Homo sapiens: one gene and its partners. The protein of the gene in region 7 interacts with the protein of the main gene of each other region in a pairwise test. Each region holds a gene or a part of one and is shown on either strand. Other genes may lie near its edges. The genes, in order: DLST, XIAP, CEP76, KATNBL1, IKZF3, RIMBP3 and NEK6.

Evidence for each region.
Region 1: the proteins of NEK6 (region 7) and DLST interact in binary tests that used the Homo sapiens proteins (3 or more experiments, as listed by UniProt).
Region 2: the proteins of NEK6 (region 7) and XIAP interact in binary tests that used the Homo sapiens proteins (3 or more experiments, as listed by UniProt).
Region 3: the proteins of NEK6 (region 7) and CEP76 interact in binary tests that used the Homo sapiens proteins (3 or more experiments, as listed by UniProt).
Region 4: the proteins of NEK6 (region 7) and KATNBL1 interact in binary tests that used the Homo sapiens proteins (3 or more experiments, as listed by UniProt).
Region 5: the proteins of NEK6 (region 7) and IKZF3 interact in binary tests that used the Homo sapiens proteins (3 or more experiments, as listed by UniProt).
Region 6: the proteins of NEK6 (region 7) and RIMBP3 interact in binary tests that used the Homo sapiens proteins (3 or more experiments, as listed by UniProt).

Annotation. Positions count from the first base shown.
Region 1 is NC_000014.9:74,898,916-74,901,579, reverse strand, and holds part of DLST (dihydrolipoyllysine-residue succinyltransferase component of 2-oxoglutarate dehydrogenase complex, mitochondrial isoform 1 precursor), read right to left. Parts: intron 1,658-2,664; coding exon 1,584-1,657; intron 1,292-1,583; coding exon 1,208-1,291; intron 515-1,207; coding exon 347-514; intron 1-346. UniProt on the Homo sapiens protein: Dihydrolipoamide succinyltransferase (E2) component of the 2-oxoglutarate dehydrogenase complex. The 2-oxoglutarate dehydrogenase complex catalyzes the overall conversion of 2-oxoglutarate to succinyl-CoA and CO(2).
Region 2 is NC_000023.11:123,866,553-123,870,052, reverse strand, and holds part of XIAP (E3 ubiquitin-protein ligase XIAP), read right to left. Parts: intron 1-3,500.
Region 3 is NC_000018.10:12,682,224-12,685,723, forward strand, and holds part of CEP76 (centrosomal protein of 76 kDa), read right to left. Parts: intron 1-3,500. UniProt on the Homo sapiens protein: Centrosomal protein involved in regulation of centriole duplication. Required to limit centriole duplication to once per cell cycle by preventing centriole reduplication.
Region 4 is NC_000015.10:34,200,097-34,203,596, forward strand, and holds part of KATNBL1 (KATNB1-like protein 1), read right to left. Parts: intron 1-3,500.
Region 5 is NC_000017.11:39,760,266-39,763,312, forward strand, and holds part of IKZF3 (zinc finger protein Aiolos), read right to left. Parts: 3' UTR 1-3,047. UniProt on the Homo sapiens protein: Transcription factor that plays an important role in the regulation of lymphocyte differentiation. Plays an essential role in regulation of B-cell differentiation, proliferation and maturation to an effector state.
Region 6 is NC_000022.11:18,609,120-18,613,152, reverse strand, and holds the start of RIMBP3 (RIMS-binding protein 3A), read left to right. Parts: upstream 1-1,233; 5' UTR 1,234-1,718; coding exon 1,719-4,033. UniProt on the Homo sapiens protein: Probable component of the manchette, a microtubule-based structure which plays a key role in sperm head morphogenesis during late stages of sperm development.
Region 7 is NC_000009.12:124,309,949-124,313,448, forward strand, and holds part of NEK6 (serine/threonine-protein kinase Nek6), read left to right. Parts: intron 1-2,560; coding exon 2,561-2,701; intron 2,702-3,500. UniProt on the Homo sapiens protein: Protein kinase which plays an important role in mitotic cell cycle progression. Required for chromosome segregation at metaphase-anaphase transition, robust mitotic spindle formation and cytokinesis.

The DNA of each region.
Region 1 (2,664 bases), on a different chromosome or scaffold from region 7:
TGTCATCTGTTTCCCAGGGGCAAGGGACCACGTTTCCAACTATATCCCCCACTCCATAGAAGCAAACAAGCCTCCTCAGCTCAGTGGTTCTCAAACTTGAATATGCATCAGGATCATCTGCACTTCTTCTTTAAGTCTGGGATGGGGTCTAAGAATATGCATTTCTAATAAGGTCCCAGATGATGCTGATCCAGACCACAATTTGATAATCAGTGCCTTAGCTATTAGAAACTAAGAAATGGAACTTAGGCCTGAAATTATAGTTAATGTTTTACAATTAGCATTTAGTTGGATTTCCCTTTCATCGAGACCTAGCCACTAGGACCTTAGAAGTGACGGTTCCTACCTTGCCTCCTATAGCCACTGGCCTGTCAAAGATGCCATGCATCCCCAGGATGGCAGACTGAGGGGGGTTGATAATGGGTGTTCCAAAGAGCGAGCCAAAAACGCCTCCATTGCTAATGGTGAAGGTACCGCCATCCATATCTTCAATGGCAAGTTCATTCTTTCGGGCCTAAAAACAGATTTCATAATTGAAATATCAAGCCAACCCAGTTTCCTTCACCTAAAGTCAGTCCATAATCCCAGCGCTTTGGGAGGCCGAGGCAGGAGGACTGCTTGAGGCCAGGAGTTCAAGGCCAACCTGGGCAACATAGTGAGACCCCCATCTGTATAAAAAACTTAAGAATTAGCCAGGCATGGTGGTGCACACCTGTAGTCCCAGCTACTTGGGAGGCTGAGGCAGGAGAATCGCTTGAGCCCAGGAGTGCAAGGCTGCAGTAAGCTATGACTCTACCACTCTACTCCAGCCTGGGCAACACAGCGAGACCCTGCCTCTAAAAACAAAAAAGCAAAGGAAGTCCAGAAAGCTTGTATCGAGATCGATGGCACAAGCGCTAGCTTCCGTGTGACAGTTGTTCGGCTAAGGTGTCTATGACCAGTGCTCCACCAGAGAAAAGGCACAATTTCATACAGTTGAAGACTTCAAAGATGATCTTTTCTAGCAGGTCTCATCTGATGAGATTTCAGTTACCAGAGCATGGTAAACTCCACCAGATATATAAAATACTTAGCTCTCATGGGCAACTGCTTTTCTCAGGGGCTATGCACTTGACTTTCCATGAGCACTGCTTGCTAGTGAGCCCAGCCTTCTGAAGGCTCTCTTCCCTCGCCTGCTTAGCAGCTTGTATACATCTTTCTACTTTACCTTCTCTCCCAGTTCAGTGATGGTCCGTTCAATATCTGCAAAATTCATAGCTTCCACATTCCTGATGACTGGAACCACCAGACCCTGAAGGGGGTGAAAAGCTGTTTTCAGTTGCAAATTAATAGTACCTTTTATAGTTAACAACTCCCTTGATTCAACCCATGGTATGCCCTCCCTAGAATACCTTCATTACTCAGTGTGATTAACAGAAAGTGTTAAAAGAATGCGGCATGGTTTAAAAGAAAAAAAAGGTTACTTTTACTAACTCCCTTCTAAAAATACAGAATTAAAGAAATGATTTCTCTTGTGTGATCTCCTTCACACAGATAAGGTGAGGGTCTAAGACCAACATTCCCCACCTCCTGCCCCAACATACCCGTGGGGTGGCCACTGCAACACTGATGTCAATATAATCCCTATACACCACCTCTTTGGTTGTGTCGTCAATCACTATGAGAGAGAAAATACATGTTACATACAACTCCCCAGGAAGGCCAAGACTAATGAGGTAATATGTGCATTAACAGAGTAAAAATCTGCAGAGCTTGATACAGTGTGGGCTGACCAACCACCATGAACACCACTGCATTATGCATGGCAGCTGGCATTCCACTTACTCCCATCCCAAGTATAGTATCTCCCAAGTCCCTGACTGAGCCTGGGCATAGGAGCATCCATTTCTTTGGCAGCCCTAAGAAGGGCTCAACACACTGGCTTCCATAGGATAGGTATGCACTAAACTCTCGTTAAGTAGCTCTAGTCAAGCCCTCCTTTAGCAGAGAATGACTAGGGTTAACAAATGTTCCAAAAAAGGGCAAATTAGCAAAGGAAAAGGGATATAGAGATACTACCCATTCTCTGCTTCCAACTCTCAACAAGAGGAAGAGGGGAGATCCAAGAGTAAGCGGGGTGATCTGGCTTTGAAATATGCTACCTCAAGAGATGGCAAACCAGCATCTGAAAATGTACACCTAGCAACTAATGGGAAAATAAAGGCTTGGGAATCATTTCCGCAGAAAGTCCATGTTGTATTGTTAGATAAGACATCCAGAGGAAGCATGTAATGTGAAAAAGAGGCCACGAGAACTTTTGAGAGCCGCCTACATGTGTGGGCAAGCAGAAGGGGGCCACTGAAAAAGATGAGAGCCAGTCAGGGAGGCATGAGAAGAATGGGAAAAAGAAGAGGTATACATTTGGGCAAAACAAAGATGGCCTTCTACCTCCCTAGAGCACCACTCAACAGGAGGGACTAGGGCTTCTACTTCTAGACCTTTAGGGCCCCTGACACTGCTGAGGATGGCAAAAGTAGCACTGACCCCTCTCCAATCTCCCAAGGAACAGAGAAGTGTGTCAACAGGAAAACAAAGTGCTTGTTAGGTCAACACTACAATGACGTAGGTAAGTAAAAAGGAAAGAAAATAAGCACCAGGTCCATGAGAGGCCAAGCCGAAGCTCCC
Region 2 (3,500 bases), on a different chromosome or scaffold from region 7:
GGGCGGCAGAGGTTGCAGTGAGCTGAGATTGCGCCACTGCACTCCAGCCTGAGCGACAGAGCGAGACTCCGTCTCAATTAAAAAAAAAAATCAATCCTCTTTGGTTTAATGTAAGGTCAAAATTTAAGCATGGGCTTGTGTGATTCTATAGCTCATCTTCTCTTCTTTCACGATGTTACCTTTGATAATAACTAACATATGTAATGTGCTTTACAATTTAGAATGTTTTCATATATGGAATCTAATTTAACCTACATAATATATCATAGGCCTCATCTGAAATATGAGGAAACAGTAGTTCTGACTGTTACTCATCAAAGGTCATGCACCCAGTGATTATGACCAATATAGGTCTAAGGAAATTACTACAAGGATTACTGGCAGAAGGGACAGTCCAATGAGGTAGCAGAAAATGTTAGGCTTCCTTCCCTTTCAAGGCCTAAAAAATTAGCTAGAACCATAGAAAGGTTAAGTCACATGGTAATATATGCTGAGATGTCTGTGTTTTTTTTTTCTTTTCTTTATTTTTGAGATGGAGTCTCACTCTGTCATCCAGGCTGGAGTACAGTGGCATGATCTCAGCTCACTGCAACCTCCACCTCCCAGGCTCAAGTAATTTTCCTGCCTCAGCCTCCTAAGTAGCTGGGATTGCAGAGGCATGACCCAGCTTTTTTTTTTTTTTTTTTTTTTGTATTTTTTTAGTAGAGATGGGGTTTTGCTCTGTTGGTCAGGCTGGTCTTGAACTCCTGACCTCAAGTGATCCACCTGCCTCGGCCACCCAAAGTGCTGGGATTTCAGGTGTGAGCCACTGCGCCCAGCCAGATGTCTGTATTTCTGTATTTAAGGTGAATAAGATGATTACAGAAATAAGAATAAAATTTCAAACCATAATATTTTATAAGTACCAGGGAATGCACAATGGCAGCAGCCTTGTCCGGTTTAAGAAATCAGCTTTAATCCACTTGGTTCAACATCTGACCATCTGAGATCAAGCTATTCTCAGTCTGTACAGGTAAACGTGACTTTTCACTATGACCCATATCCTCGAAAATACATAAAACTATATCATAACAAGGTGAATCACATGTATCCATAACAAAGACTGGGTACCAAATCATACCAAAATCAAATCCCAAAATGTATCAAACAGCAGAGCTACAAATGTATCACAATTTAAAACAATAAAAGCCCATGCCAAGTCCTGCAAAATGGACATAAGTATGTTTTTATCATATAAAGGATAACCTATTATTAACCACATACAGAGCAGATAAAATATATAATCCATAAATTTGGCCTCAAATTCCTGTTTTTGTTTTTTGAGATAGGGTCTTGCTCTGTCCCCCAAGCTGGAATGGGGTGCCCTGATCTTGACTCACTGCAACCTCCACCTCCTGGGCTCAAGTGATCCTCCCACCTCAGCCTCCAGAGTAGCTGGGATTACAGGTGCACGCACAACCATGCCCAGTTAATTTTTCTATTTTTAGTAGAGATAGCATTTTACCATGTTGCCCAGGCTGGTCTTGAACTCCTGGACTCAAGGGATCTCCCTGACTTGGCCTCCCAAAGTGCTGGGATTAAAGGCATGAGCCACCATGCCTGGCCTGGGATTGTTATGTGGAATTTTTTTCCTTGACAAAATCTCAGATAATCAGGCTTAAAAACTATTATAATGGGTTTTGAATCGTTGGAATCAACTAGTCCTTAAGCCCAGCCACCCTGGGTTTTTTGTTTGTTTGTTTGCTTGTTTGTTTGTTTTGAGACAGGGCCTCACTCTTGTCACTCAGGCTAGAATGCAGTGGTGCCCTCATGGCTCACTGCCACCTTGACCTCCCGGGCTCAAGCGATCTTCACAGGCGCGTGCCATCACATCCAGCTAATTTTTTTATTATTGGTAGAGACGGGGTCTCACGATGTTGCCCAGGCTGGTCTCAAACAATCCTCCCACCTCAGCCTCCCAAAGTGCTGGGCTTACAGGTATGAGTCACCATGCCTGACCCTGTTACTTTACAGATGAAGAAAGTGCAGTATAAAATAATACACTGGATAAATAAAAAATGTATTTTGAAAGACTTCAGGCTGGGCGCAGTGGCTCATGCCTGTAATCCCAGGACTTTGGGAGGCCAAGGCAGGTGGATGACCTGAGGTCAGGAGTTCGAGACCAGCCTGGCCAACATGGTAAAACACTATCTCTACTAAAAATAGAAAAATTAACTGGGCATGGTTGTGCGTGCGCCTGTAATCCCAGCTACTTGGGAGGCTGAGGCAGGAGAATCACTTAAACCCAGGAGGCAGAGGTTGCAGTGAGCTGAGATTGCACCAATGCGCTCCAGCCTGGGCAACATGAGCAAAACTCCGTCTCAAAAAAAAAAAAAAAAAAAGGCCAGGTACGGGGGCTCACACCTGTAATCCCAATACTTTGGGAGGCCAAGGCGGGCGGATCACAAGGTCAGGAGTTCAAGACTAGCCTGGCCAACATGGGGAAACCATGCCTCCACTAAAAATACAAAAATTAGCCGGGCGTGGTAGCACATGTCTATAATCCTAGCTACTCAGGAGGCTCAGGCAGGAGAATCACTTGAACCCAGGAGGCGGAGATGCAGTGAGCTGAGATTGTGCCACTGCACTCCAGCCTGGGGGACAGAGTGAGACTCTGTCTAAAAAACCAAACCAAACCAAAAAAAAAAAAAAGACTGCTGGGCGCAGTGGCTCACACTTGTAATCCCAGCACTTTGGGAGGCTGAGGCGGGCTAATCACGAGGTCAGGAGATGGAGACCATGGTGAAACCCCGTCTCTACTAAAAATACAAAAACATTAGCCAGGCGTGGTGGCGGGCACCTGTAGTCCCAGCTACTTAGAGAGGCTGAGGTAGGAGAATGGCATGAACCCAGGAGGCGGAGGTTGCAGTGAGCTGAGATCGCACCACTGCACTCCAGCCTGGGCGACAGAGCGAGACTCCGTCTCAAAAAAAAAAACAGAAATGTTAACTATAGAATGTTGAAGGGGGGGGGGGGATTAAAACAACCTGTAGACAATATGATCGTCATTATTCTATTTCATAAATTTTCTATAATAAACACATATCTCTGGCCAGGCACGGTGGTTCATGCCTGGAATCCCAGCACATTGGGAGGCCGAGGCGGGCAGATCACATGAGGTCAGGAGCAAGACTCCGTCTCAGAAAAATAAATAAATACATAAAATAAAATAAGCCAGGTGTGGTAGCACACCTGTAGTCCCAGCTACTTGGGAGGCTGAGGCAGAAGAATCGCTTGAACCTGGGAGGCGGAGGTTCAGTGAGCCAAGATCTCACCACTGCACTCCAGCCTGGGTGACAGAGCTAGACTCTGTCTGAAAAATATATATATTATATATGTAATATATTTTACATATTATATTGTGTTATATATTATATATATTTTACATATATTGTATTATATATTATATATAATATATTATACATGTAATATATTATATACTATATTATATATATCATACA
Region 3 (3,500 bases), on a different chromosome or scaffold from region 7:
GCATGATCTCAGCTCAATGCTGCCTTGACGTCCTCAGCTCACTGCAGCCTTGATGTCCCCAGCTCAAGTGATTCCCCCGCCTCAGCCTCCTGAATAGCTGGGACCACAGGCACTCATCACCAGGCCCAGCTATTTTTTGTGTTTTTGTAGAGACAAGGTTTCACCAAGTTGCCCTGGCTGGTCTCGAATTCCTGGACTCAAGCAATCCGCTTGCCTCAGCCTCCCAAAGTGCTGGGACTACAGGCATGAGCCACCTTACCTGGCCAAGAAATTTCTTTCTCCAAAAAATTGGATTTGGTGGTGCTAAAGTTTTTTAAAAAAAATTAACTGTAAGAAAACAAATAGCATTTTATAGTTCTTCAAGTGGCTTTACAAAAATGTAATAACCAATCTTTTATTTTTTAATTTACTTTTTTCTTTTTTGAGACAGAGTCTCGCTCTGTCACCCAGGCTGGAATGCAGTGGCATGACCTCGGCTCACTACAACCTCCTCCTCCCGGGTTCCAATGATTCTCAGCCTCCTGAGTAGCTAGGACTACAGGCGTGCACCACCACACCCAGCTAATTTTTGTATTTTTAGTAGAGAGAGAGTTTCATCATGTTGGCCAGGTTGGTCTTGAACTCCTGACCTCAAGTGATCCACCCACCTCGGCCTCCCAAAGTGCTGCGATTACAGGCATGAGCCACTGCGCCTGGCTTAATCAACCTTTTAGACCCAATTATTTCTGAGATTTTGTCCTAAAGAAAATTCAGAAGTAAAATAAAAATATCTGCAAAGATAGTCAGTGTGAAAGTTCATTCATGGCAACATTAAAAAATTTAAAATGAGCTTAACTTTATGGCCAGGTGTGCCAGCTTTTGCCTGTAATCTCAGCACTTTGGGAGGCTGAAGCGGGCAGATCACTTGAGGCCAGGAGTTTGAGACCACCCTGGCCAAGAAACCCCATCTCTACTAAAAATACCAAAAAAAAAAAAAAAAAAGCCAGGCATGGTGGCTCCATGCCTGTAGTCCCAGCTACTCAGGAGGCTGAGGTAGGAGAATTGCTTGAGGCTGGGAGGCGGAGGTTGCAGTGAGTCGAGATCGTGACACTGCACTCCAGCCTGGGCGACAGAGCGAGACCCCGTCCTAAACAAAAACAAAAGAAAACAACAACAACAAAACCACTGAATAAAAAAAAAAGAGCCTAACTTGGCAGTTCCTACAATAGGGAAATAGTTAAATGTATTTTGTATATTGACTCAAGGAAACTTAAAACACTCATTAAAAAACGGAAATCAGCACTTTAGGAGGCAGAGGCGGGCAGATCACCTAACGTCAGGAGTTCGAGACCAGCCTAGCCAACACAGTGAAACCCCATCTCTACTAAAAATACAAAAATGAGCTGGGGGTGGTGGCGGGCACCTGTAATCCCAGCTACTAGGGAGGCTGAGGCAGGAGAATCGCTTGAACCCAGGAGACGGAGGTTGCAGTGGGCCGAGATCATGCCATTGCACTCCAGCCTGGGCGACAAGAGGAAAACTCTGTCTCATTTAAAAAAAAAAGGAAATCAGAAAGACTGTAGCAACACATAGAAAAATGTTCATAGCATAATGCTTAATTATAAAGCAAGATACAAAAATTTATTTACAATTATAATTATGAAATAAATGATACATATACAGCAGAAAAAATATAAAAAGAAATAATAAACTAGGAATAGAATTATAGGTAAAGTTTCACCATTACTGTTGTAATGCTGTTGTTTGTACAGTAAAAAATCTAAATATATATATGATATATATCATATATATGATATCATATATATATGTATTTTTTTTTGAGACAGAGTCTTGCTCTGTCGTCCAGTTTGGAGTGCAGTGGCGCGATCTCAGCTCACTGCAACCTCCACCTCATGGGTTCAAGTGATTCTCCTTTTTTTGTGTTTTTAGTAGAGATGGGGTTTCACCGTATCAGCAAGGATGATCTCGATCTCCTGACCGTGTGATCCGCCCGCCTCAGCCTCCCAAAGTGCTGGGATTGCAGGCGTGAGCCACCACACCTGGCCCATGCCTGGGTAATTTTTATAGTTTTTTAGAGAGAGGGATTTTGCCATGTTGCCCAGGTTTGTCTGGAACTTCTGGGCTCAAGTGATTTGCCCACCTTGGCCTACCCAAGTGCTGGAATTGCGGGCATGAGCCACCATGCCTGGCCTGCTGTCACCTTTATTTATTTTTTTTGAGACAGAGTCTCGCTCTGTCACCCAGGCTAAAGATAGTTTTTTGTTTTTTTTTTTTGAGATGGAGTTTTGCTCTTATTGCCCACACTGGAGTGCGATGGCGTGATCTCGGCTCACTGCAACCTCCACCTCCCAGGTTCAAGTGATTCTCCTGCCTCAGCCTCCCAAGTAGCTGGGATTACAGGAGCCCGCCACCATGGCTGGCTAATTTTTGTATTTTTTCAGTAGAGATGGAGTTTCTCCATGTTAGCCAGGCTGTTCTAGAACTCCCGACCACAGGTGATCCACCCTCCCCGGCCTCCCAAAGTGCTGGGATTACAGGCGTGAGCCACCGCGCCTGGCCTAAAGATAGTTTTACTTGTTTGTTATCATACTATCAACATTTTTAGAACACAGATTAGGAAATATCCCATAATCTATAAAATTAGTTTACTAAAATCAAGTCATTCAAAAAGTGTAATTAAATATACATTTGTATTTAAATACAAACTAAACAAACTAAATAGCATGCAATTCAAGATTTTTTTCTATTTTAATATTTTTTCTATATTAATTTTGTACTGCCATTTTCTCTTTTTTTTTTATGGAGTTTCGCTCGTTGCCCAGGCTGGAGTGCAATGGCGCGATCTCAGCTCACCACAACCTCCGCCTCCCAGGTTCAAGCAATTCTCCTGCCTCAGCCTCCTCAGTAGCTAAGATTACAGGCACGTGCCACCACACCACGCTAATTTTGTACTTTTAGTGGAGACGGAGTTTCTCCACGTTGGTCAGACTGGTCTTGAACTCCTGACCTCAGGTGATCCACCCACCTCTGCCTCCCAAAGTGCTGGGATTACAGGCATGAGCCACCACGCCCAGCCTTATTTTCTCTTTTTTAAAGATGTATTATCTGAGCAAATTGCAACACATCAGTAGTACCAGAAAGCCATGGTCTGGTCCTGGTGCTGTTCCTAATTCATTCTGCAACTTGATTTCTGACATTTTAGTACTTGTAGGTCCCTACATCACAGAAATCACAATAAATAAGAAACTACATGAGAAAATAAAGATGCTGAGTTTTTTGTGTATTGATATTTAAATGTTATGAAAAACAGAACAAGGTTCTGACGTGGTCAAGCTGATAGCACCCCAAAGCGGTTAGTTCCAGGACCCTTGCAAAACAAAATCCGTGGATACTCAAGGCTTATATAAAATAGTATTTTTTTTTTTTTTGAGACGTGTCTTGCTCTGTCCTCAGGCTAGAGTGCAATGGTGCGATCTCAGCTCACTGCAACCTCCGCCTCC
Region 4 (3,500 bases), on a different chromosome or scaffold from region 7:
TTACAATCCTCTGGCTAGACAGAAAAGTTCTCCAAGTCCCCACCCAACCCAGAAACCCAGCTGGCTTCACCTCTCACCTACTCGGAACAACTCAAAGTTGATATCTCAAGGGTTTAATATTTCCTGAATGATGATTCATCACACCACTTTCTCTCTCTCTCTTCTTTTTTTTTTGAGATGGAGTCTTCCTCTGTCTCCCAGGCTGGAGTGCAGTGGCGCCATCTCGGCTCACTGCAACCTTCGCCTCCCGCATTCAAGAGATTCTCGTGCCTCAGCCTCCTGAGTAGCTGGGATTACAGGTGCGTGCCACCACGCCCAGCTAATTGTTTTTTTTTTTTGTATTTTTAGTAGAGATGGGGTTTCACCATATTGGCCAGGCTGGTCTCGAACGCCTGACCTCTTGATCCACCTGCCTCAGCCTCCCAAAATGCTGGGATTACAGGCGTGAGCCACCACGCCCCGCCCACCACTTTCTCTTAATTCAGTTTTCCACAGTAAGCTGATTTGAGAAATAACGTCAAACTCGGGAAAGCAGATCAAGCATGAAAATAAAGACAGATGTCTGGAGATTCAGTGGGTACAATACTATATCATTTCAATCAATTTGGATCAAACTGAATTCCAACTCTCTTATGACTGAGATACCCTGAAATAAAAATTACAAAAGAGATGCCAAGTGGGAATTAGCTTTCCTACTACCTCTTCCTCAGTGTTTTTGTTTTGTTTTGTTTTGTTTTTTGAGACAGCGTCTTGCTCTGTCGCCAGGCTGGAGTGCAGTGGCGCCATCTCAGCTCACTGCAACCTCTGCCTCCCAGGTTCAAGCGATTCCCCTGCCTCAGCCTCCCAAGTAGCTGGGATTACAGGTGCACACCACCACACCTGGCTAATTTTTTGTATTTTAGTAAAGACAGGGTTTCACCATGTTGGCCAGAATGGTCTCGATCTCCTGACCTCGTGATCTGCCCTCCTCGGCCTCCCAAAGTGCTGGGATTACAGGCTTGAGCCACCACACCCGGCCTCTTCCTCAGTTTTAATCAAGTCCACTTAGATTACTACATTAGGGAACTGGGACTAATAATGGGAAAATAAAATTAAAGAACTAGGTAGATGTTTATCACCATCCATAGTTGTGGACCTACACAGGCTTTTTAAAAAACATAACTATGCCTTATACTGGAAAGTAGGGAGAAAAAAGTAAGGTAGCAAAACACTATGTTACCACTTAGGTTAAAAAGTGTGTGTCTGTGAGGGACTACTTGTATATTCACTAAATATCTTTTGAAGGATATGAGAGAAACTGGGGACAAAAGTCACTTCTAGTGAGAGGATATGTGTGGCTAGGGGGTGAAGGGAGAAGACTTTTCCCTTTTGGGCCTTTTGAATTTTGTATAATGTGCAAGTATGTTTTAACTTAATTATAATGTATTAGAGTATTATATACATATTTTCTTAAATGGCTATAAAACACCTGAATCTTTGGGAAGACTTAGGACTTCTTACGCCTAGAAGTAGATGGTTATGATTATTCTAGCATGTTTTGGTGAATTCGCCAAATTCCAATTTACTTTCCCTGTTAGAATAACCCAGTATTTTCTGGAAATATTCAACAGGGAGGAAAAAATACTTGATTCTGTTTTAATTGTCTTCTTGGACTCAGAAATGGAAAATATATATACAACTGGCCCTCTGTATCCGTGGGTTCAGCATCTGTGGATTCAATCAATTCCCAATCAAAACTATTTAGAAAAAAAATACATCTCTACTGAATATGTAGACTTATTTTTCTCATCACTATTCCCCCAATAATACAGTATAACAACTATTTACATAGCATTTACATTGTACTAGATATTACAAATAATTTAGAAATTATTTAAGGTGTATGGGAGGATGTGCAAAGGTTATGTGGAAATACTACACCACTTTATATCAGGGATTTGAGCATCCTCGGATTGTGATATCATTGGGAGGTCCTGGAACCAATCGCCCATAGATAATGAGGGATGAATGTATACATACATAAAACATTGTCACTTTAAGGATCATTTTTGACCCTTGTTTGCCTACTAAAGGTATTTCTGATACTTTCAAAACCAATAGACTCTCTACATATGAGAGGATATACCAATAAAGTAGTATTCAACTCTCAAAATGATGAGCTAATATAAATTAATTAAAAAACTCTATCTTCATTATTTGGACTAATGTCACCACCCTACGACACTTGTGCCTAATTTCTACAGTACCAGAAGTCAACAGGGTTAAGTATACCCTAAGCCTTGGAAAAAAGGGTAGATCATCCTTTAAGAATTAACAAAAATGATACTAGAGACATTCAAAATCTTTTTATAACAACGGTTCTTAAACCTTTATGTTCCAAAACTTGTGAGGATTATATTACATCCCCAACAGTTACAGTGGTTGGGCACCACCATATCTCCTAGGCTGAAATCAGAACGTATATTAAGGTTTGAAAATGCCTCCTCTCTCAGGGAACACTTTCTTCTCCAACAGAAGAATCACTTGCAGGCTCAAGAAAATATGACTCCTGTGTCCAAGACTTAACTATAACAAAAATTAACATATTAACTTTCATTTAAGAATAAAATCTCGGCCAGGCGCGGTGGTTCACGCCTGTAATCTCAGCACTTTGGGAGGCCTAGGTGGGCGGATTGCCTGAGGTCCGGAGTTCGAGACCAGCCTGGCTAATACGGTGAAAACCCATCTCTACTAAAAATACAAAAATTAGCTGGGCATGGTGGCAGGCACCTGTAATCCCAGCCACTGGGGAGGCTGAGGCAGAAGAATTGCTTGAGCCCGGAAGGCGGAGGTTGCAGTAAGCCAAGATCACGCCATTGCACTCCAGCCTGGGCGACAGCAAGACTCTGTCTCAAAAAAAATAAAAATAAATAAATAAAATCTCTCATCATACTGTTTCACCTAAACTCTGGATTCAAATCTCCAACTGCCTACTAGCCAGCTCCACATGGATATCCAATAGTCATCTATTCTTGAACTTAACATATTAAAAATAGAACCCTTAATATCCCCCCTCTCAAATCTGCTCCTCCCAACAGTCCCTAACTCAGTAAACGGAACCATCCTCCTTCCAATTTCTCAAGCCTGAAATAAAGGATTCATCCTTGATTTCTTTTTTCCTTAATAACCTACATCCAATTTGTTGACTTTGCCTTTATAATATATTCCCAAGCTGTCCGTTTCTTTCCATTTCCATTACCACCATTCTAGACCAAACCACCAACTCCTTTAGACTATATAATAGCTTCCTAAATGCTTCAGCCACACTGGCCTTCTGTCCTTCAACATTTCAAACTTATTTCCATTTTGTGGCTGAGCCATTCTTTCTGCTTAAAATATTCCTCCCACACACTCACCACCCAATCAAGAATAACCCCACCCTCACTTACAATCATTCTCTATAGCAGTACCCTGTATTTTTCCCCCACCACATTTATCACCATCTGGAAATTAGCTTATGC
Region 5 (3,047 bases), on a different chromosome or scaffold from region 7:
CCTGCGTCAGCCTCCCGAGTAGCTGGGATTACAGGTGTGCACCACCACACCCAGCTAATTTTTGTATTTTTTTTTTCGAGATGGAGTCTCACTCTGTCACCCAGGCTGGAGTGCAATGGCACGATCTCGGCTCACCACAACCTCCTCCTCCTGGGTTCAAGCGATTCTCCTGCCTCAGCCTCCTAAGTAGCTGGGATTACAGGCATGTGCCACCACGCCTGGCTAATTTTGTATTTTTAGTAGAGACAGGGTTTCTCCATGTTGGTCAGGCTGGTCTCGAACTCCCAAACTCAGGTGATCCGCCCGCCTTGGCCTCCCAAAGTGCTGGGATTACAGGCGTGAGCCACCGCACCTGACCCTCCTTAAAACATTCTAAACCTCACATTCAGTAGGGCTTGGGGAGGTGGGGGTGGTACAGGAAATAGGAGAATAATAGTGATACAGATGCTACCTGGAAAAACTTTGTTCTGTCTGTTCCTCACGAAACAAAGCCGAAAAGAAAAACTTTATGTGGATGTGAGATTTGATAGTAACACAGTGTTTCACCTGAGCAAAATTTTGTGTTTTTAAACATTTCTGTTTGCCAAAGAAATCTGAGGTTGTGGCTGGGCGCAGTGGCTCTTGCCTGTAGTTCCAGCACTTTGGGAGGCTGAGGTGGGCAGATTGCTTGAGCCCAGGATTTTGAGACTAGCCTGGGCAGTATGGCGAAACGCCATCTCTGCAGAAAAATACAAAAAAAATTAGCTGTGCATGGTGGTGTGCCTATAGTCCCAGCTACTTGGGAGGCTGAGGTAGGAGGATTGTTTGAGCCTAGGAGATCAAAATCTGAGGTCATTTTATATCTGGCCGATTTTGAGTATGGGCCTAACAAAATGTTAAGCACTGCATTTAAAAGGTGAGAAATTTTGTCACTGACAAAGTCAGAAGCTGTGTCAGGAACAGCTCACAGTGGGTCATAAAGCATAAGATTAGCTGGCTTATCTGTGCCAAGGCGAATGTCTTTTTGGGAGAATAACTTGAGGAAACTAAAGACTGATGAGTTCATTTTCTCTCTTTTTTTTTTCTGGTGGTAGTGGTGGGGGCTCACGGGAGAGACACTTCTATTTAGTTTTCTTTCCGTAGGAAGTACCGATGCAACACTTCAGGTAGTGACAGAAAACATTTGGAGAGCTGGGCATTGTTTGTGCATGCCTGTAATCCCAGCTACTTGGGAGGCTGAGGCAGGATTGCTTGAGCACAGGAGTTTGAGTCTGGCCTAGGCAACATAGTGAGACCCTGGTCCTCTAAAATATACATACATATATATACATATACAAAAAAAATAAAAATAAATTAAAAAATTAAAAAACACCTGGAGCACTGGTTCTGTTTCTTTTCCACCCTCAGCCCAGTTCTGTCACCTTGGCTGCAAGGAAACTTTGCCTGGGTTTTTTTGTTTGTTTGTTTGTTTTTGTTTTAGACAGAGTTTCGCTCTTGTTGCCGAGGCTGGAGTGCAGTGGTGCCATCTCGGCTCACCGCAACCTCCGCCTCCCGGGTTCAAGCGATTCTCCTGCCTCAGCCTCCTGAGTAGCTGGGATTACAGGCATGTGCCATCACGCCCGGCTAATTTTGTATTTTTAGTAGAGATGGGGGTTTCTCCATGTTGGTCAGGCAGGTCTCGAACTCCCAACCTCAGGTGATCTGCCTGCCCCAGCCTCCCAAAGTGCTGGCATTACAGGCGTGAGCTATCGCGCCCGGCCCTTTGCATGGGTTTGGTTGTTCCTCAGACCGTGGCCTCCTGGGTGTATGGTGGAAAGCCCGCCTGATAAGAGGCTGGTGGGAAATGAAGGAGAGGGGCCTACAAGGCTCTTGTTCAGAGGGAGTCTGCATGAGAAAGTACAGGTACTATCTGAAGCTGCTCCAGGGCTTCAGTGCCCAGCAGTGGCAGATGCAAGTCCTGACTCTGCCCTTCTGCTAAGATTCTCCTTCACCCTCACCTCCCCAGCCCTGGCAAGGGGTTTGTTAATTAGTACAGCATAAGGGGTATGTACAGAAGGCAGCGTTTATCTGTGTGATGGTAACCACTGCATATCTGGTTCAACTTCAAGACTTAAGGATGCAGAGTTTCCACACATAAATTTTTTCTGGAATTGATGGGCCCCAATCTAGGCTCAGAATGCCACAAAGAAAGTGCCTTTGTGAGTGGTCACCTTACTCAGAAAACTAACCTCAGAAGAATAGAAATCATGCAGCAAATTCATTAGTCACAGGAAAAAGGAGGATCATATCTATAAAAAGAGTCCCCAGGCTGGTGGAATGGGCCTTGGTTTCACAATCTTGAGATGCAAAAGGTGGTCTCAGGCTGGGTGCGGTAGCTCATGCCTGTAATCCCAGCACTGTGGGAGGCCAAGGCGGGCAGATCACCTGAGGTCAGGAGTTTGAGACTGGCCTGGCCAACATGGTGAAACCTTGTCTCTACTAAAAATACAAAAATTAGCCGGGCTTGGTGGTGAGCACCTGTAATCCCAGCTACTTGGGAGGCTGAGGCAGGAGAATTGCTTGAACCCGGGAGGCGGAGGTTGCCGTGAGCCGAGATCGCGCCACTGCACTCCAGCCTGGGCAACAGAGCGAGAGACTGTCTCAAAACAAAAGAAAACAAAAAAAGTTGGTCTCCTCTGCAAAGACTTGAACACTAATCTGGTGGAAAGGCTTCCTTTCCCTCGTTTTCTCTTCTACTAATCCCTGCTTCCAAATTCTCTTTCTCTTGTCCCTTGAAGAACCAACAGGATGTGCGATATTTCAAGAACGTAATGAGCAACTCCTCTTTCACAAAGGGAATAAGCAATCTGGCATAGCTTGGAGTCTAGTATTACGGAAATACAGTGATATACTGAAGACTACACACCAAAATACATCCATTCCTTTAGCTGAAGTCTCAAACATGTTGGGACTGTTGCCATGGAATTTCATAAAACCTTTTTTCCTGAGACAGACGCCATGCCACAAAGAAGGATAAGCCATTTGTGCAGTCTGAGGTGGAACATTTTAATTACTGGCAGCACATAGAC
Region 6 (4,033 bases), on a different chromosome or scaffold from region 7:
CTTGTTACTTGACACTGCCTAAAGGCATGTTCTGTGGGTTCCGGGGAAACTGATTTGAAAAACTTGAGTGTTGTAAAGGAGGGCCATAAGCTGAGTGAACACAGCAGTTGTGAGAGGTCCCAGGTGCTTCCTGGGGACAGGGAGACACGACAGACCAAGAAGCAAAGGGGCCTCTGATGTGACTTCAATATCAAGGTCTTGTCGGGCACAGTGGCTCATGCCTGTAATCGCAGCACTTTAAGAGGCCGAGGCGGGTGGATCACTTGAGGTCAGAAGTTCAAGACCATCCTGGCCAACATACTGAAACCCTGTCTCTACTAAAAAGTACAAAAAATTAGCTGGGCATGGTGGCTCAAGCCTGTAATCCCAGCTACTTGGGAGGCTGAGGCAGGAGAATCTCTTGAACGTGGAAGGTAGAGGTTGCAATGAGCCAAGATTGCGCCACTGCACTCCAGCCTGGCGACAGAGTGGGGCCCCATCTCAAAAAAAAAAAAATCAATGTCTCGATGCAGACTGCCAGGTATCAGGTGTCCATCCATGTCTCCCAAAAGCCACTTGGCACCAGGAGCAGACAGGAAGGGCAAAGAGGAGCCAGACTGAAGCAGGGCTTCTTAGCTCCCAAGCCACACAGGTGGCCACCAGTCAGAGAGGCAGTGTGTGTGTGTGTGTGTGTGTGTGTGTGTATTTCTTCAGTTCAGTGTGTGTATGTATGTTTCTTCTGCAGCTCAGTGTATGTGTGTATTCCTTCAGCTCAGTATGTGTGTGTGTGTATGTTTCTTCTGCAGCTGTGTGTGTGTGTGTGTGTGTGTGTGTGTGTGTGTGTGTGTTTCTTCTGCAGCTCAGGATGCCTCCAACATTTCTGCTGAAGCCTCACCCTCACTCCTGGCCCATCCTGAGGCCTCTACCTAAGATGCCAATGAGTAGCCCAGACACTGGGGCTCCAGTGTTTGTCACCAGGTGGTACCTGGATGTGGGAGGTAGACAGGCCAGATGGCCAGTTTGGGCAGTGCCCCTCATGCCTATCTGGCCCTGGGTCCCTATGCCACCTTGCTGGGGAGGGTCTTTTCGCTTACACCTCCTCTGAGCCGACTCTGCGCAGTAACACAAATGTGTATCAGGCACATCCTTTCCTCAAAAGGTGGATGACCAGTTGGGTGATCAGGGCTGTTAGGGGGCTGAAGGGTCCTGGGGAGTCCAGGTCTAGCCAAGTTGAGGCCTATCCTGCTGCATTTTCCAGCCACCTGACCCAAATACACCACCTGAACCCACGACCAGGTATGCCCACACCCCATGGGTGGCCTTAACACACACACCCTGCCCCTTTCTCCAAGTACAGGAGCAGCAGCCCAGACTTCCCTCGGGGCACCGCGGCCTGCTTGGGACTGCACAGTGCCTGGGAGGGTGCCTGGGGAGGGTCACAAGGGACTTGGTGCTAGAAGCAGGAAAAGTGTAGGGACCGGAAAAGCCCCCGTGCATCCTGGAAGGGACATGGGCCAGTTTGAGCAGGGGTGTGGGAGTCCAGCCCTGGCCTTGCCAGGTGGAGAGGCGCCTGGGCCAGACATCCGCGGCAGGAGGCGGGGGAACATGCCAAGAGGCGGAAGGGGCACGCGGAGACCCCCAGGGGGCGCCGGAAGGGGCGCGCCGGGCGGTCGGCGGCGGCCGTTGGCGAGCTGAGGCCTGCCAGGCGAAGTCTGGAGACCAGCCGGGCCGCGGCCGCAATGGCCAAGGACTCGCCCAGCCCCTTGGGCGCGTCGCCCAAGAAGCCGGGCTGCTCCAGCCCGGCGGCGGCAGTGCTGGAGAACCAGAGGCGGGAGCTGGAGAAGCTACGGGCGGAGCTGGAGGCGGAGCGGGCAGGCTGGCGGGCGGAACGGCGGCGCTTCGCTGCCCGGGAGCGCCAGCTGCGTGAGGAGGCCGAGCGGGAGCGGCGACAGCTGGCTGACCGTCTGCGCTCCAAGTGGGAGGCACAGCGCAGCCGGGAGTTGCGGCAGCTGCAAGAGGAGATGCAGCGGGAACGCGAGGCCGAGATCCGGCAGCTGCTGCGCTGGAAGGAGGCCGAGCAGCGGCAGCTGCAGCAGCTGCTGCACCGGGAGCGCGATGGCGTGGTGCGCCAAGCCCGGGAGCTGCAGCGCCAGCTGGCCGAGGAGCTGGTGAACCGCGGCCACTGTAGCCGCCCGGGGGCGTCCGAGGTTTCCGCGGCGCAGTGCCGCTGTCGCCTGCAGGAAGTGTTGGCGCAGCTTCGCTGGCAGACTGACGGCGAGCAGGCGGCGCGCATCCGCTATCTGCAGGCGGCGCTGGAGGTGGAGCGCCAGCTCTTCCTCAAGTACATCCTGGCGCACTTCCGCGGGCACCCGGCTTTGTCGGGATCACCGGACCCCCAAGCTGTGCATTCCTTGGAAGAACCGCTGCCCCAGACCTCCAGCGGCTCTTGCCACGCCCCCAAACCCGCCTGCCAACTCGGATCTCTAGACAGCCTGAGTGCTGAAGTCGGTGTGCGCTCCCGCTCGCTAGGCCTGGTGTCCTCTGCGTGCTCCAGCTCCCCAGACGGCCTGCTCTCCACGCACGCCAGCTCCCTTGATTGCTTCGCACCTGCGTGTTCCCGCTCGCTTGACAGCACCCGGAGCCTCCCCAAGGCCTCCAAATCCGAGGAGCGGCCCTCCTCACCAGACACCTCCACCCCTGGCTCCCGGAGGCTCTCGCCGCCACCATCGCCACTCCCGCCGCCACCACCACCGTCAGCCCACAGGAAACTCAGCAACCCGCGGGGAGGAGAAGGCTCTGAGAGCCAGCCCTGCGAAGTCCTGACTCCCTCACCCCCGGGCCTGGGCCACCACGAGCTGATAAAGCTGAACTGGCTGCTGGCCAAGGCGTTGTGGGTGCTGGCGCGCCGCTGTTATACCCTGCAAGCGGAGAACAAGCAGCTGCGGCGTGCAGGCTGCCCCTACCAGGCAGACGAGAAGGTGAAGCGGCTCAAGGTAAAGCGCGCGGAGCTGACCGGGCTCGCGCGGCGCCTAGCTGACCGCGCCCGCAAGCTGCAGGAGACCAACCTCCGGGCCGTGAGCGCGCCTATACCCGGCGAGAGTTGCGCCGGCCTGGAGCTGTGCCAAGTCTTTGCCCGCCAGCGCGCTCGGGACCTGTCGGAGCAGGCGAGCGCGCCGCTGGCCAAGGACAAGCAGATCGAAGAGCTGCGGCAGGAGTGCCACCTCCTGCAGGCGCGTGTCGCCTCGGGTCCCTGCAGCGACCTGCATACTGGAAGGGGCGGCCCCTGCACCCAGTGGCTCAACGTCAGAGACTTAGACCGCCTGCAGCGCGAGTCCCAGCGGGAAGTGCTGCGCCTGCAGAGGCAGTTGATGCTTCAGCAGGGCAACGGTGGCGCTTGGCCCGAGGCGGGCGGCCAGAGCGCAACCTGCGAGGAGGTGCGACGGCAGATGCTGGCGCTGGAGCGCGAGCTGGACCAGCGGCGGCGCGAGTGCCAGGAGCTGGGCGCGCAGGCGGCCCCGGCGCGGCGACGTGGCGAGGAGGCCGAGACACAGCTGCAGGCGGCGCTGCTCAAAAACGCCTGGCTGGCGGAGGAGAATGGGCGGCTGCAGGCCAAGACCGACTGGGTGCGGAAGGTGGAGGCTGAGAATAGCGAAGTGCGCGGCCACCTGGGCCGCGCGTGTCAAGAGCGCGATGCCTCCGGCTTGATCGCCGAACAGCTGCTGCAGCAGGCGGCGCGCGGGCAGGACAGGCAGCAGCAGCTGCAACGCGACCCGCAGAAGGCCCTGTGTGACCTCCATCCTTCCTGGAAGGAGATACAGGCGCTCCAGTGTCGGCCTGGTCACCCTCCTGAACAGCCCTGGGAGACCAGTCAAATGCCGGAGTCCCAAGTTAAAGGTAGCAGAAGGCCCAAGTTCCACGCACGGCCTGAAGACTACGCAGTGTCACAGCCCAACAGAGACATACAGGAGAAAAGGGAAGCCTCCCTCGAGGAGAGCCCAGTTGCCCTTGGGGAGTCAGCCAGTGTCCCCCAAGTTTCAGAGACAGTCCCTGCCAG
Region 7 (3,500 bases):
TTTTGAAGAGGCCGGTGGCGGGTCCTGGGGCGGGGCCTGGGGCAGGGCTCAGGTGACTGAAAGAATGGAGGCTGGAGCAGGAAGTGGCAGGCCTGGCCGGTCAGGGGGTCTTGAGTGAAAAGCCGAGGAGGGATCTGAGCTGAGAGCCCACCCGATACGGAGCAAGAGCTTGGGCACCACAGTCCCCAGTCCTGGGGTCACACCCCAGCTCTGCTGTTCTTTGCTGCCTGATCAGAACAGGTCACTGCTACCCCTCCAAGCCTCAGATTCCTGAAATGGGGACAGCAGTGAGGCCCACTCACAGGGTTGTTCTGAGGACCCAAAGAGTGGGCGCGTGGGCGGTGTCTGCACAGAGCCCAGCATGCAGTAGACACTCAGGATGCCTGCTCTTCTTAGGTGGGTGCTCTGTGTACAGGTGTATTTACCCGACAGACATTGGCACATGGTGGATAAAATCATCATCTTCCTCCTCCAGCAGCCCTCCAGATCGGGTCCTCTGGCAGGACCCACCATGAGAGGTAATTAGGCCTCGAGGCTTCAAAGTCAAGGTTGGCCCAGCCCTCACCTTGCTGTGTGCTGTGAGGCCTGGACTCCCATCACTCACTCCCGCAGGAGGGTGTTCTGTAGAGTTCCCTCAGCCAAATCTGGAAGAGACATTTTCTTTTTTTTGAGATGGAGTCTCACCGTCACCCAGGCTGGAGTGCAGTAGCACGATCTAGGCCAACTGCAACCTCCGCCTCCCAGGTTCAAGCAATTCTCCTGCCTCGGCCTCCCAAATGGCTGGGATTTACAGGCACCCACCACCACACCCGGCTAATTTTTGTGTTTTTACAAAAATTTTTTGGCCAGGCTGGTCTCAAACTCCTGACCTTAAGTGATCGCCCGCCTCGGCCTCCCACAGTGCTGGGATTACAGGCGTGAGCCACTGCGCCTGGCCTAGAAGAGACATTTTCACTTTACTTTTTTCCCTGCTTTTCCAGTGAGTTTCTATTATTCATTAAGTCATGATTCAGGGTCCCAGAGTAGGGATCACCACATAACCAGGTTCCCCTCAGGCACTCTGGGAGAAGGACAGAGGAGAAGTTGATGGACCCAGCTTAGACCTGCCCAGGAGACGTGCCCCTGCTCCGCAGGCATCTCAGGCTGAGACGCAGCTGGTCCGGCCAGCAGTTCCTGGTGTTTCCAGGTGGGGAAGCAGCTGTCAGAAGGGCCAGTCCTGTAGTTCTCGGTTTGGTCTTGATGCCTTCCGCCAGGGTGCTGGCTCCTAAAGACGCCTCGGTACGGTGCCCGGCTCAGTGTGACCCTCACCAAAGACCCACTTCATGCTAGAAAGTTGAACTGCTTGTTCTGGCTTCACTAGGGGCGGTGGCATGGAGCTGGGTGATGTGGGCATGGCTGGCCCCTCTGGGCCTCAGTTTCCTCATCAGGCAAATGGAGACACAGCCGGGCCCATCTCACCATAGGGCAGGCCAGAGATGTGGCATCCTCTCCCCTTGTCTGTCTCCTCCTTCCCTGGCCCACTGTTGGCGCCCCCTCCTGCCTTTTCCTGAGAGCTCACTGCACAGGTGTCCTGGGGTCCTCCTGGCCACTGTGGTCTCACCTGGAGGCTCCATCCCTGGGCAGGTCCTAGCGCAGGATCATGTGTTCCAATGCTGGCCCCTGCAGAGTCTTTGTGGAGCTCTGGTTTCTTCACGACACCCTAAAAAAGGCAGTTTATCTAAAGGATGGGCTCAGGGTGTAAGGCTGCACATTTTTTTGAGAGGGGGACAGAGTCTCCATCACCCAGGCTGGAGTGCAGTGGCATGATCTCTGCTCACTGCAACCTCTGCCTCCTGGGTTCAAGCGATTCTCATGCCTCAGCCTCCTGAGTAGCTGGAATTATAGGCATGGGCCACCACACCCAGCTAATTTTTATATTTTTAGTGGAGACAGGGTTTCGCCATGTTGGCCAGGCTGGTCTCGAACTCCTGACCTCTCGAACTCCCGCCTCAGCTCCCAAAATGCTGGGATTACAGGCGTGAGCCACCACACCTGGCCAAGGCTATGAATATTAACCTTGGTTTTCTTGTCTGAGATGGGGAACGGCTGCCCCAGGAAGGGAACTTGCCATTTCTTATGATGACCTGGGGCATTTTGCATGGTGGCCACGGGCTGGGGATACATGAGCTGCACCCGGCTTACCGGACCCCAGTTTGGGCATCAAGGATTCAGGAGAGGATGAGACGGGCAACGCCCGTGGTCCCACGGAGCTAGCCCCCAGGGATGGGACTCAGAGACAGCAAACAAACAAGCAGTCAGACAATGAAGGTGGTGATGAGGGCAGTGGGGAGCATGAACAGCCTCAGTTTTTCACCTGCACTGGGGGTCCTTGAGGGGACCCAGGGGACCCTGTGCAGAAAGCCCCCTGGGGGGGTGCCTGGGAGGCTCCCAGAGCAGGGTTGGCAGCAGAGTCCCTCCTTCACCTTAGAGGGTGCTGTTGGGGTGCTGGGCCTCTAGGGGTCGTCCCCAGGCCTCTGCTGCAGCCTGGCTGCTCACGGAGGCCCTCTGTCCCCCGTTCCAGAGGCATCCCAACACGCTGTCTTTTCGCTGCTCGCTGGCGGACTTCCAGATCGAAAAGAAGATAGGCCGAGGACAGTTCAGCGAGGTGTACAAGGCCACCTGCCTGCTGGACAGGAAGACAGTGGCTCTGAAGAAGGTGCAGGTGAGCTGACAACCCGTGGGGTCAAACCTGCATCTCGGGAGGTGGTCTCTGCATCTGGACGGGGTGCCCGGGCCAGTCCCTTCTCTCCCCTCTTCTGTGAACGAGGGAAACAGCACTCAACTCACTGGGTTACAGAGAGAACCAGGTGGACTCCTATTGATGAAAGTTCACTGTGAACTGCAAAGGAAAAGAAAAACGAGCATGCATTGAGCGCCTGCTGTGTACTGGGTCATGCAAGGAGCACATGGAGCCTCTCAACAGTCCCGTGGGTGGGGATTGTCATTTCATCTCTCAGATGAGGAAAATCTCATAACCGCCAGGGCCCCAGCATGAGTCTTGGGGGAGCTGAGGTTCATACCATGTCCACCCATCCTTGCGCCTGCGGTTGCTCCACAGTTCTGGGCTTCCTGCCTTCTGCGTCCCTCCTAAATGGAGGAAGTAGGTCAAGCGGCAAAGTCAGGACAGGAGCCATGTCCATGAGAGCCGCTGGGCCCGTCTGAACACAGCTTTGCCGGAGGAAATGGCTTTAAATCCTCCAGCAAAGCTTCCCAAGCCCCTTGATTTGCTTACTTGTCCTTAAAGAACAAGATTGAGAGCCTGGGCAGAGGAGGGCCGGGAGAGAGAATGGCGTTGGGGAAATGGGGAGAGAACACCCGCAGCTTCAGGGCGCTGGAGGAGTAGCAGGGTCCTCTCTGTCCAAAAAAGGACCAGTTTCTCTCTTGATCTTGTTTTTTTTTTGAGATAGAGTCTCAGTCTATCACCCAGGCTGTAGTGCAGTGGCGTGATCAGCTCACTGCAA